Linked DNA regions of Homo sapiens. The protein of the gene in region 2 purifies or fractionates together with the protein of the main gene of each other region. This does not show direct contact. Each region holds a gene or a part of one and is shown on either strand. Other genes may lie near its edges.

Evidence for each region. The genes of interacting proteins can lie anywhere in the genome.
Region 1: the proteins of NEK9 (region 2) and COX6B1 purify together in Homo sapiens (co-immunoprecipitation; one large-scale study listed by IntAct). This does not show direct contact.

The regions. Positions count from the first base shown.
Region 1 is NC_000019.10:35,654,686-35,659,581, forward strand, and holds the end of COX6B1 (cytochrome c oxidase subunit 6B1), read left to right. Parts: intron 1-3,908; coding exon 3,909-3,962; 3' UTR 3,963-4,097; downstream 4,098-4,896. UniProt on the Homo sapiens protein: Component of the cytochrome c oxidase, the last enzyme in the mitochondrial electron transport chain which drives oxidative phosphorylation.
Region 2 is NC_000014.9:75,082,040-75,087,808, forward strand, and holds part of NEK9 (serine/threonine-protein kinase Nek9), read right to left. Parts: intron 5,192-5,769; coding exon 4,979-5,191; intron 2,648-4,978; coding exon 2,525-2,647; 3' UTR 1-2,524.

The DNA of each region.
Region 1 (4,896 bases), on a different chromosome or scaffold from region 2:
CCAGGGCCCTTGGGATGCTGGGGTGGGGTCTTAGCAGAGGGGAGTGTGGTGGCTTGGTGGGAGCTCATCTGTGAGGGGCAGAGGGAGGACAGGGCACCACACTGTCCCAGGACTCAGTGCCTTTCCTCCCGCCTAGAATTACCTCCCTGTCTCCTTCTGCTGATGCCTCTCAACCAGTCAGGGCTCTCAGCTGAGGCGACCAGGGTGCTTTGCTAGATGTAGCTCACTCATGCACTCTCCAAATACACACTCAGCACTGGGCTCCCATCCCTGTGTAGCTCACAATTCTGTGCAGTCCTGTCCTTTTTTATTAGGAACATTTTTTTTTCTTTTTTTTTTTCTTTTTTTTTTTTTAGACAAGGGTCTTGCTGTGTTGCCAGGCTGGAAAGGCTGGAGTGCAGTGGCGCGATCTTGCCTCACTGCAACCTCCGCCTCCTGGGTTCAAGCGATTCCCCTGCCTCAGCCTTCCAAGTAGCTGGGACTACAGGTGTGCACCACCATGCCCAGCTAGTTTTTTGTATTTTAATAGAAACGGGGTTTCACCATGTTAGCCAGGATAGTCTCAATCTCCTGACTTCATGGTCCACCTGCCTCGGCCTCCCAGAGTGCTGGGATTACAGGCGTGAACCACCGTGCCCGGCCCTATTATGAACATTTTCAAAGCAGAGATAATAATTCATTGACCTCAAATACATCCATCACCCAAAGTGAATAGTTATCAGGATTTATCCACGGTTTCTTCATCTACCCCTTTTCGTTTTCTTCTTTCCTTTGCTGAAGTATTCTAAAGCAAGTCCCAGACACGTCATTTCACCCCTGCCTACTTCAGTGTGGACTTCTAAATAATGACACAGTAAGACAGTCCTTTCAGCCCTGATCTGACCAAATCTGTCGTCAATATTTAATAGCTCTTTGCTATGCCCCTGCCCTTTGTTTAAAAAAAAAAAAAAGTTTTTAAAGACAAGGTCTCATGATGTTGCCCAGGCTAGACTCGAACTCCTGGGCTCAAGTGTTCCTCCTGTCTCAGCCTCCTGAGTAGCTTGGACTACAGGCATGTGCCACTGTGCCTGTCTCTCTCTCTCTCTCTCTCTCTCTCTCTCTCTTTGTCGCCCTCTCGCTCTCTCTTGCTCTCTTTCTCTCTCGCTCTCTCTTTCTCACTCTTTCTCTCTTTCTTTCCTTTCTTTCTTTTCTTTCTTGAGCCTTGCTCTGTTGCCCAGACTGGAGTGCAGTAGCATGATCTCAGCTCACTGCAGCCTCAGCCTCCTGAATAGCTGGGACTACAGGCATGAGCCACCACACCTGGCCCAATTTTTGTATTTTTTTTGTAGAAATGGGGTTTCGCCTTGTTGCCCAGACTGGTCTCGAACTCCTGAGCTCAAAGCAGTCTGCCTGCCTCAGCCTCCCAAAGCGCTGGGATTATAGGCATGAGCTACCGCACCCAGCTGAATCTTTCAAAATAAAAAAAATTACCCTTTAACTTGGCAATTCCACATCTAGGGATGCTACAAAAATCTTCATGTACAAAGATGCCCATTGCAGAGTTGTTCGTAATGGAGAATATTTGGAAATAACCCAAGTTAAAACATTGATCTTGATAGTCTTTATGGAGACTATGGTGATCTACATGCTAGCACACAGAAAGAATGCTAAGACACAGGAAAAGTAAGTTGCAGAACAATCTATATAGTAGGAGTCAATTTGCAAGGATGGAGTTTTTATGGTGTGGTATGTGTATGTAAATAAAGTAGGCACATACCGCTGGCACTTATTATGGGCCAGCTATGTTGTTAGACCTTTTTTTTTTTTTTTTTTTGAGATGGAGTCTTGCTCTGTCTCCCAGGCTGGAGTGCAGTGGTGCAATCTCAGCTCACTGCAACCTCCGCCTTCCAGGTTCAGGCGATTCCCCTGCCTCAGCCTCCCGAGTGTCTGGGATTACAGGCGCCTGCCACCATGCCCAGCTGATTTTTGTATTTTTAGTAGAGACAGAGTTTCACCATGTTGGCCAGGCTGGTCTCAAACTCCTGACCTCAGGTGATGCACCTGCTTCGGCCTCCCAAAGTTCTGGGATTACCGGCGTGAGCCACCACGCCCAGCCATGTTAGCACTTTACATCACATAAGGTCAACATGCTAACACAACCGTATGAGGTAGGTACTATTGTTAGTATCCTCATTTTACAAAATTGGAAACTGAGGCCCAGAAAGGTTGAGTAACTTGCCCAAAGTCACACAGCTAGGAAGTGATGGAGCAGGGATTCAGATTCAGCCTCTCTGTTATCCATGCTTTCATCCACTGTTCGTTCTTGCACCAGTGGTCCTCACCCTTTTTGGCACCAGGGATGAGCTTCATGGAAGACAGTTTTTCCACAGACAGGGTTGGGGATGGTGTAAGGATGAGTCCAGCATATTACATTTATTGTCCACTTTATTTCTGTTATTATTACATTATATAATAAAATAATTATACAACTCACCATACTATAGAATCAGTGGGAGCCCTGAGCTTGTTTTCCTGCAACTAGATGGTCCCATCTGGGGGTGATGGGAGATAGTGACAGATCATCAGGCATTAGATTCTCATAAGGATCATGCAGCCTAGATCCCTCACATGCGCAGTTCACAATAGGGTTCGCACTCCTAAGAGAATCTAATGCTGCCGCTGATCTGACAGGAGGTGGAACTCAGGCAGTAATGCGAGCATTAGGGAGTGCTTGTAAATATAGTTGAAGCTTGTCTCGCTCACCTGCCACTCACTTCCAGCTGTGGGGCCCAGTTCCTAACAGGCCACAGACCAGTACCTGGTAGGCACTGGTTGGGGCTCGGGGACCCCTGCCTTATAGCATAAAATGTGAGCGTGTATGTATATAAAAACGTTTATGCTTGTAACTGCTTGTGAGGTCCACAAAGAGTAGAGTGTTACTTTCAGGGAGTGTTAACTTGACATAGGCCTTATATGGGCCTTTTCATTTTTTTTTTTTTTTTTTTTTTAGAGACAGTCTTGCTCTGTCAGGCTGGAGTGCGGTGTGCAGTGGTAGCATCATAGCTCACTGCAGCCTCGAACTCCTGGGTTCAAGCAGTTCTCCCACCTCAGCCTCCCTAGTAGCTGTGACTACAGGTGCATGCCACCATGCCTGGCTAAGTTTTGTATTTTTTGTAGAGACAGGGTTTTGCCACATTCACCAGGCTGGTCTCAAACTCCTGGGCTCAAGCGATCCTCCCACCTTTGCCTCCCAAAGTGCTGGAATTATAGGCGTGAGCCACCATGCCCGGCTTATTTTTTATTTTTTGTAGAGATGGGGGTCTTGCCGTGTTGTCCAGGTTGGTCTCAAACTCCTGAGCTCAAGCAGTCCTCCCACATCGGCCCCGCAAAGTGCTGGGATGACAGGTGCGAGTCACCACACCCAGCCTCCATCATTGTTTATACTGAGCATCGCCTGTGGTCAGTGGTGGGATTGCACTGTGTATTGTTTGGCACCTTTTTTGCACTTGACTATGTATCTTGAAGATCCATCCATTCATGCCAGAACATAAATCAGCCTCGTTTTTTTTCACAGCTGCCTGCTATTCCATCTCCCCTGTTTGGACAAACAGCATAGTGTTGACTTGAGGTTTTCAAAGCAGGGCCCACCCTTGGAGCTCTGTACAGTGACACATCTCCCCATCGACAGCTCTGCAGTGGGCCTGGGGTTTTCCTGCCCATTACTCTCCTCCCAGCATGTCAGCTTGTTCAGAACAGTGATTTCTGTCTTTTGGGGTCACTGCTGATTCCCCGGCCTCTAGAATAGAGGTTGGCACACAGCAGGTACCTGTGGATATTGGTTGAACAAACAGGTGGGCAAAGTGAGGAAGATAAGAAGTCCATCCGTTCAGTTTCCCCACTGCGGAGGGAATAACACTGTCTTTCCACAGGTCACAGACTGGGATGAGCAACGGGCTGAAGGCACGTTTCCCGGGAAGATCTGAACTGGCTGCATCTCCCTTTCCTCTGTCCTCCATCCTTCTCCCAGGATGGTGAAGGGGGACCTGGTACCCAGTGATCCCCACCCCAGGATCCTAAATCATGACTTACCTGCTAATAAAAACTCATTGGAAAAGTGAGACTATGCGTGTGAACGGGCCAGGCAGTGGCAAGAAGCTGGGCTGGAATCAGTGCCCTGACCAGGGAGGGGCTTGAATGAGTATTTTCTCTGTTTTGTTTTTATTTATTTAATTTAATTTAATTTTTTTTTTTTTTATGATGGAGTCTCGTTCTTCACGCAGGCTGGAGTGCAATGGCACGATCTCTGCTCACTGCAACCTCCACCTCCAGTGTTCAAGCGATTCTCCTGCCTCAGCCTCCCGACTAGCTGGGACTACAGGCACACCCCACCACACCTGGCTAATTTTTGTATTTTTAGTAGAGATGGGGTTTTACCATGTCGGCCAGGCTGGTCTCAAACTCCTGACCTCAGATGATCCACCTGCCTCGGCCTCCCAAAGTGCTGGGATTACAGGCATGAGCCACCATGCCTAGCGTTTTTTAACTTAATTTTATTGAACCTTGGCCACCCTCTCTGTGCCAGTCAATGAGTCAAATAGTTGATTATACAGAATAACCTAAGTTCCTATGTGTGCAACCACCCTACATAATTTTAAAGCAAATTATATAGATTATAATATAATATAAAATACATAAAGATTATATTTTATCCAGAAATAAGAAACTATATGTATCTCTTGGAGATACAATTTTTTTTTTTTTTTTTTTGAGACAGAGTCTCAATCTGTTGCCCAGGCTGGAGTGCAGTGGTGTCATCTCAGCTCTCTGCAACCTCTGCCTTCTGGGTTCAAACTATTCTCCTGCCTGGAGATACCTATTTTTTTAACATAATTATTTACACCTAAGAAATTAGTTCTT
Region 2 (5,769 bases):
GATTCACGGAGGCTTAGAATCTGGATGTTTTATCCCCAGAGACTAAGGTCCATGCACAGGCTTACTGAAGCACAGTACTGATTAAGAGCTTAAATGTTTATTTAAAACAGAAATGCCAAACCACTCCACTCTCAACCTTTCAAGCAACCTGGCTAACAATAAACTAGTTCTTCTGCAACAATGTTAGAGCAGAGGAGTAACTCAGGTTATACTGTAACTCAAAAGCAATACTACTAGAAAACTTAAAACACCTAGCACTGCATAAAGAAAAAAAGCAGGACAAAATTTAAAGAGAATTAGCTACAGAAAACCATTCAAAGGCATTTCTACTGCCTCATCTTTTACTCCATCCCCCTTTGAACTGGTTTCTGTTTGCATACTTGTTTGGTGGGAAAAAAAATCATATGGCTGTCCCAGGCACAATATGGGAAAGTGCAAACTGTCTCTAAGGCACAGAACTTAGATTCTCAGCCAGATTAATAGCAAATCTAGACTTCCCAAGGGAATATGCTAGAGAAAATGACCACAGCGTTCCACTGCTAGGGAAAGGCTCCCCTATGAACAAGACCAGGGCACTCACCCACCCCCGGCACTCACTTTCACCCCACCTTCTCAGCAACCTGCCCATGTCCATCAGCTCCATGGCAGAAGCAATCCTCATGATGAACACCCAAACTGACCCAGCCTCTCAGGCCTGCTGAGATGATGAGCATGAGGATACAGGGACATGACAGGTCAATCGGTCCTCAAGAAAATCAAAGTTGCATTTACATGCTGAACCAAAACCCACTGTTACAGTTTATGACAACCCCCGCAAGTCCCCAGAACTTGCAACTTTAATCAAAGTTTGGCTGCTTCCCTTATTTCAAGAAAAGGTTTCAGTGATTACATTAGTACTAATGTACTAGGCTTCCCAGAACTGAGAAAACAATGGGAACATCAAACCAAAGAAGATCCCATTGAACAGAGTTGCCTGTCCCGAGCAATGGGGTTCTCCCCAAGCATCAGCCTTTATGCCACCAGTTTTGGAGAAATGGCAAAATTTCCATTGCACAAGACCTCCCACAATGTTGATAAGATTATCAAACATTTTGGTCTGGGGAAGATGAAACAAAATTAATTTAGCTGTTTATAGGAAGGTGGGATGTGAGACTCATCAAAGGTAGGATGTGTGACACAAAATACCACAGGAACATTTTACAAGGCTAGGTGGAAATACAAAGCTCACATCCTTAAGGAAACCATCAAATACTTGCCTAGAACTTTCTATATGAAGTTTTGTTCTTCTATGACACTATTTCTCTTTGGTAAAGCTAGCTTGTTTCTATCTACAAAGACACAGTGAGTACAGGATTAGAAGTGAGCTCTCAGCCAAATTCCTTTTGCAAGTTCTACCTGTTCTGTTAGGCTTCAGGGACTCCCAGGGTTTGGTGCTGGCTTTGGGCCACTCAGGTAGGAAAAATGATACAGATTCATTCGTTACCACATGGCTTCATAAAACACCAAAAGGGGAAAAATACTGACTAGACATTCAGAAAGAAAGTGGTTGGGGCTGCTGATATCAAGATCAGAACCCTAAGAGCCATGAAGGCAGAGGCTCAAAGAAGTCTTTTCATGGGCAGAAGACTGAGAGCCCTCTAAGCCCTCTCTAAGATACCAAGTAGAGGCAGCTAAAGGAGGACCTCTTCTCCTTCATGATTTTCTCTTAAGGCTATTCTGACTGCCCCATGGACTCAATTCTCTGAGACACCTCATCCCTCAGAGACACCTCATCCCCTCATCCACAGTTAGGAAATCCCACCCTGCATTGGTCACAGCCTGAAACACCAGCTGTGTGATGAGGAGGGTCCTGCCCTTTCTCTATTCCTCACTGAAGAAATTTCAATCAACCCTCAGAGGAAAAGCAACCTAAGCCTACCTTTCCTCCTAAAGCATTTAGCTGCACAGAGTAACTGAACTTTTTCGAAACAAGCCCTAGATTGACTCCATCAGACATATTTTCCTGGACTCAGGGCTCCCAAGAGGGCCAGACTACTTCACCACTCTGCAGAGGACACTGGGCGGGCCACACCTGATTCCAGCCCACTCCAACTTTACACTTCTCCCTCTCCCACCCAGAGGGGTAATGCCTGGTACTGAATTCCCAAGGCAGCTTCCAATCAATGGTGAAAATGATACATGGGATATAAGCTGCTACCAGCGCAATTAAGGTGAGCACTGTGTCTCCTCTTCAAAGGTGGGATCAACAGATGAGGTACAGAGCTGCTGTTGCTATGGCAGTCACTGATGACAAAGCCAGGGCCATGGGGGCCCTTCCATTCTCCAAAACAATAAAATCACTCCTAGATCCTATCTAAAAGGCAATGCCACTCTCCAAATGTACAAGGAAAGTGCTTCAGAGCCTCTGCCTTGCGCTCCTTTTCTGCAAGTGAACAAAGCCAGGAAAGCTGCTCTCTGCATTCGGTAAGTGTGCTGTGAAGTTCTTTGGGTCCCAGTCTCCTGGGGGCTCTACAGGCTCAGGAGACTAGAGGCTGGGTCTACAGGAGTCTGTTCCCAGGAGGCACCAGGAATCTGAATCTAAGTCAGGCTTTGGATCCATTTCCATCTCTTCCTTTGCTGTCTGAGTTCCTTTGGAATGCATCCCCACCTGTCCGGATAAAACACGGTTCCACATTAGCAACAGTGCCACCTAGTCACAGAAGTAGTTCAGTACTATATTTTCAATGCCAACTTCTAAGGCATTGGCTAAGGCGTGGCTAAGGATTTGTAGCCACGATCTTGTGAGACGCTCATGGCACTATTTTAGATACAGTCCATACCTTTATATTTACTGCAGGTAGGGTGACCAACTATCCAGGTTTGTCCAGGACTGCGGGGTTTCCTGGGATGCAGAACTCTTAGTTTTAAAATGGAAAAAGTCCTGGGCAAAACAATCTTCTCCCTGCTATAGCTGCCAATCTTACCTTGTGTGTGTGTGTGTTTTTGAGACAGGGTCTTGCTCTGTTGCTTACGCCGAAGTGCAGTGGTGTGATCACGGATCACTGCAGCCTTGACCTCCCCAGATTCAGGTGATCTTCCCACCTCAGCCTCCTGAATAACTGGGACTATAGGCGTGTGCCATCATGCCCAGTTAGTTTTTATTTTTGGTAGAGATGGGGTTTCACCAGGTTGCCCAGGCTGGTCTTGAACTCCTGGGCTCAAGCAATCTCCCAAAGTGCTGGGATTACAGGTGTGAGCCACCGTGCTCAGCCTGTATATTATTTTCTAAAGTAATTTCATAAACATTAGTTCATTTAATCCTCCAAAGAACCATACAAGGTGTCTATTATTTTCTTTCAGGTGAGAAACCAGGGCTCAGAGAAAACAAAGTAGCCCAAACACCTACAGCTGGCAAATGGCAAAGCCAAGGGCCTAACCCTATTTCTCTGCTTCTACTTCCCTCTATATAAAACAATAGCATGGCTCTCGAAAAATAATGCAAGCAGCATCACCTTTGAAGTATTTTCACTAAAAATGTTTAATGTGAATCTAATCAAGCCTTAGGTTAAACTTCCAGTTTTCAGAAAAGACAGGGTGACAGAAAAACAAGTTAGACAACACCCTGAGAAAACAAGACAAATCTAGAATGTGGGACATTCTGTTGAACAACTGCCCTGGTTTCTTCAACAAGTCAATGTCATAAAAGTATTTTTTTAAAAGGTGAAGCAGAGCATGGTGGAACATGCCTGTAGTTCCAGCTACTTGGGGGGCTGAGGTCAGAGAATCACTTGAGCTTAGGAAGTCAAGGCTGCAGTGATCCATGTTTGTGCCACTGCACTCCAGCCTTGGTGACAATGCAAGACCCTGTCTCAAAATAAATACATAAATAAGGCCTGGCGCAGTGGCTCACACCTGTAATCCTAGCACTCTGGGAGGCCGAGGCAGGTGGATCACGAGGTCAGGAGTTTGACACCAGCCTGGCCAATATGGTGAAATCCCATCTCTACTAAAAATACAAAAATTGGCTGGGCATGGTGGTAAGCGTCTATAGTCCCAGCTACTCGGGAGGCTGAGGCAGAAGAATCACTTGAACCCGGGCGGTGGAGGTTGCAGTAAGCCGAGATCACGCCACTGCACTCCAGCCTGGGCAACAGAGTGAGACTGTCTCAAAAAATAAAAATAAAAATAAAAATAAAAATAAAAATAAAATAATTTAAAAAAGGTGATGGTGGTGGAGGGAGCTGTTTTAGATGAAAAGAAATGAGACATACATATAATGTGGGATTCTTGACTGGATTCTAGTCTGATAAAAAATGGTTATAAAGGACATTTTTGTGGGGGAAAACTGGGAAAATTGAGGTATCAGCTGGATACTAGATGAGAATTGACAATACTAGTATTAATTTTTTTAGGTGTGGTTATAGTATTGTGGTTGTTCAGGAGAATGTCTATTTTCAGAGGTATGTAATTAAGTATTGTAAAAGAAAAAACATACACTAAGAAAAAGCAATGCAAGTGATGAAAATGATTCAATCTAGGTGCCTGAACAAGGCCCAAGGCTTCTGGGATTATAATTACAAAAATGGTATCATTAAAAACTAAGGATCGGCCAGGCGTGGTGGCTCACACCTGTAATCCCAGCACTTTGGGAGGCTGAGGCGGGTGGATCATGAAGTCAAGTGATCGAGACCATCCTGGCCAACACGGTGAAACCCTGTCTCTACTAAAAATACCAAAATTAGCCGGGCATGGTGGTGCACACCTGTAGTCCCAGCTACTCGGGAGGCTGAGGCAGGAGAATTGCTTGAATCCGGGAGGCGGAGGTTGCAGTAAGCCAAGATAGCACCACTGCACTCTGGCCTGGCAACAGAGCGAGACTCCGTCTCAAAAAAAAAGTAAGGACCTGCAAAGGAACAAGTCTATTTCAGTACTTTGTGTTTTGTTTCTGTGATTCTTCAAAACAGGCTTAGAAATTGGATTATTCTTTTAATGCTCTCACCTGCTGCCCTCCTTCTAATTTCTTGTTCAACTTCTGCAGTTGGGTAAAAATCTGGAGGTTTTCTTGCTGTAGCTTCTGTTGTTCAGCCAGACACTTTAACACCAGACCCTGCAATCTCTCAACCTCCACCTGCAGAGAGCTGCACGCACACGCAGGAGGAGTCAGTGGTGTTCCCTTCCCAGCACAGGTTACTGCAGGATTCAGCCGAGGTGACTAGAGAGACAAGAAGGAGATTGCAGGAGGTTCTGCCCAGGTGTCATAGCTCCTCAATCCAAACTTCCTCTAAGTGCAATCGGATTTTACTTTTAAATTAACAAGATAAATCATATATACACATGAATATATGTACGAGAAACAGAAATGCTAGGATTATAACAGCGATGGGCACTGACATAACATGGAAAGTGAACTCTCTGCCTCAGTCCCCATTAGGCCAAGGTGGGAGACCAATCATCTATTTTGGAGGACTTTGTGAAAAATTTTAAAGCACCTTGGTATCTTCTCATTTAAAATGCTGAAGTAGGGAAAAGCATGATTTGGTTTGGAACAAGTCTTTCAGATCACAGACCCAAAGGGTCAATATTCATGATATGCAGTGAATCACACTTTAGAAAAGATCTGAGAGGTGGTCAGTAAACAGGACCACCAACACAATTTAAGAAGGTGAACTGACAGAGAAATTAAAACATTCACCTTGAAGTTTCAAAGGTATTATTACCTCTTCTGGGAAGCTTTCTGATGATCCTAGTCTGGATTTTTCTCTTTTCTACTGTACTTTTTTTATAGGAGGG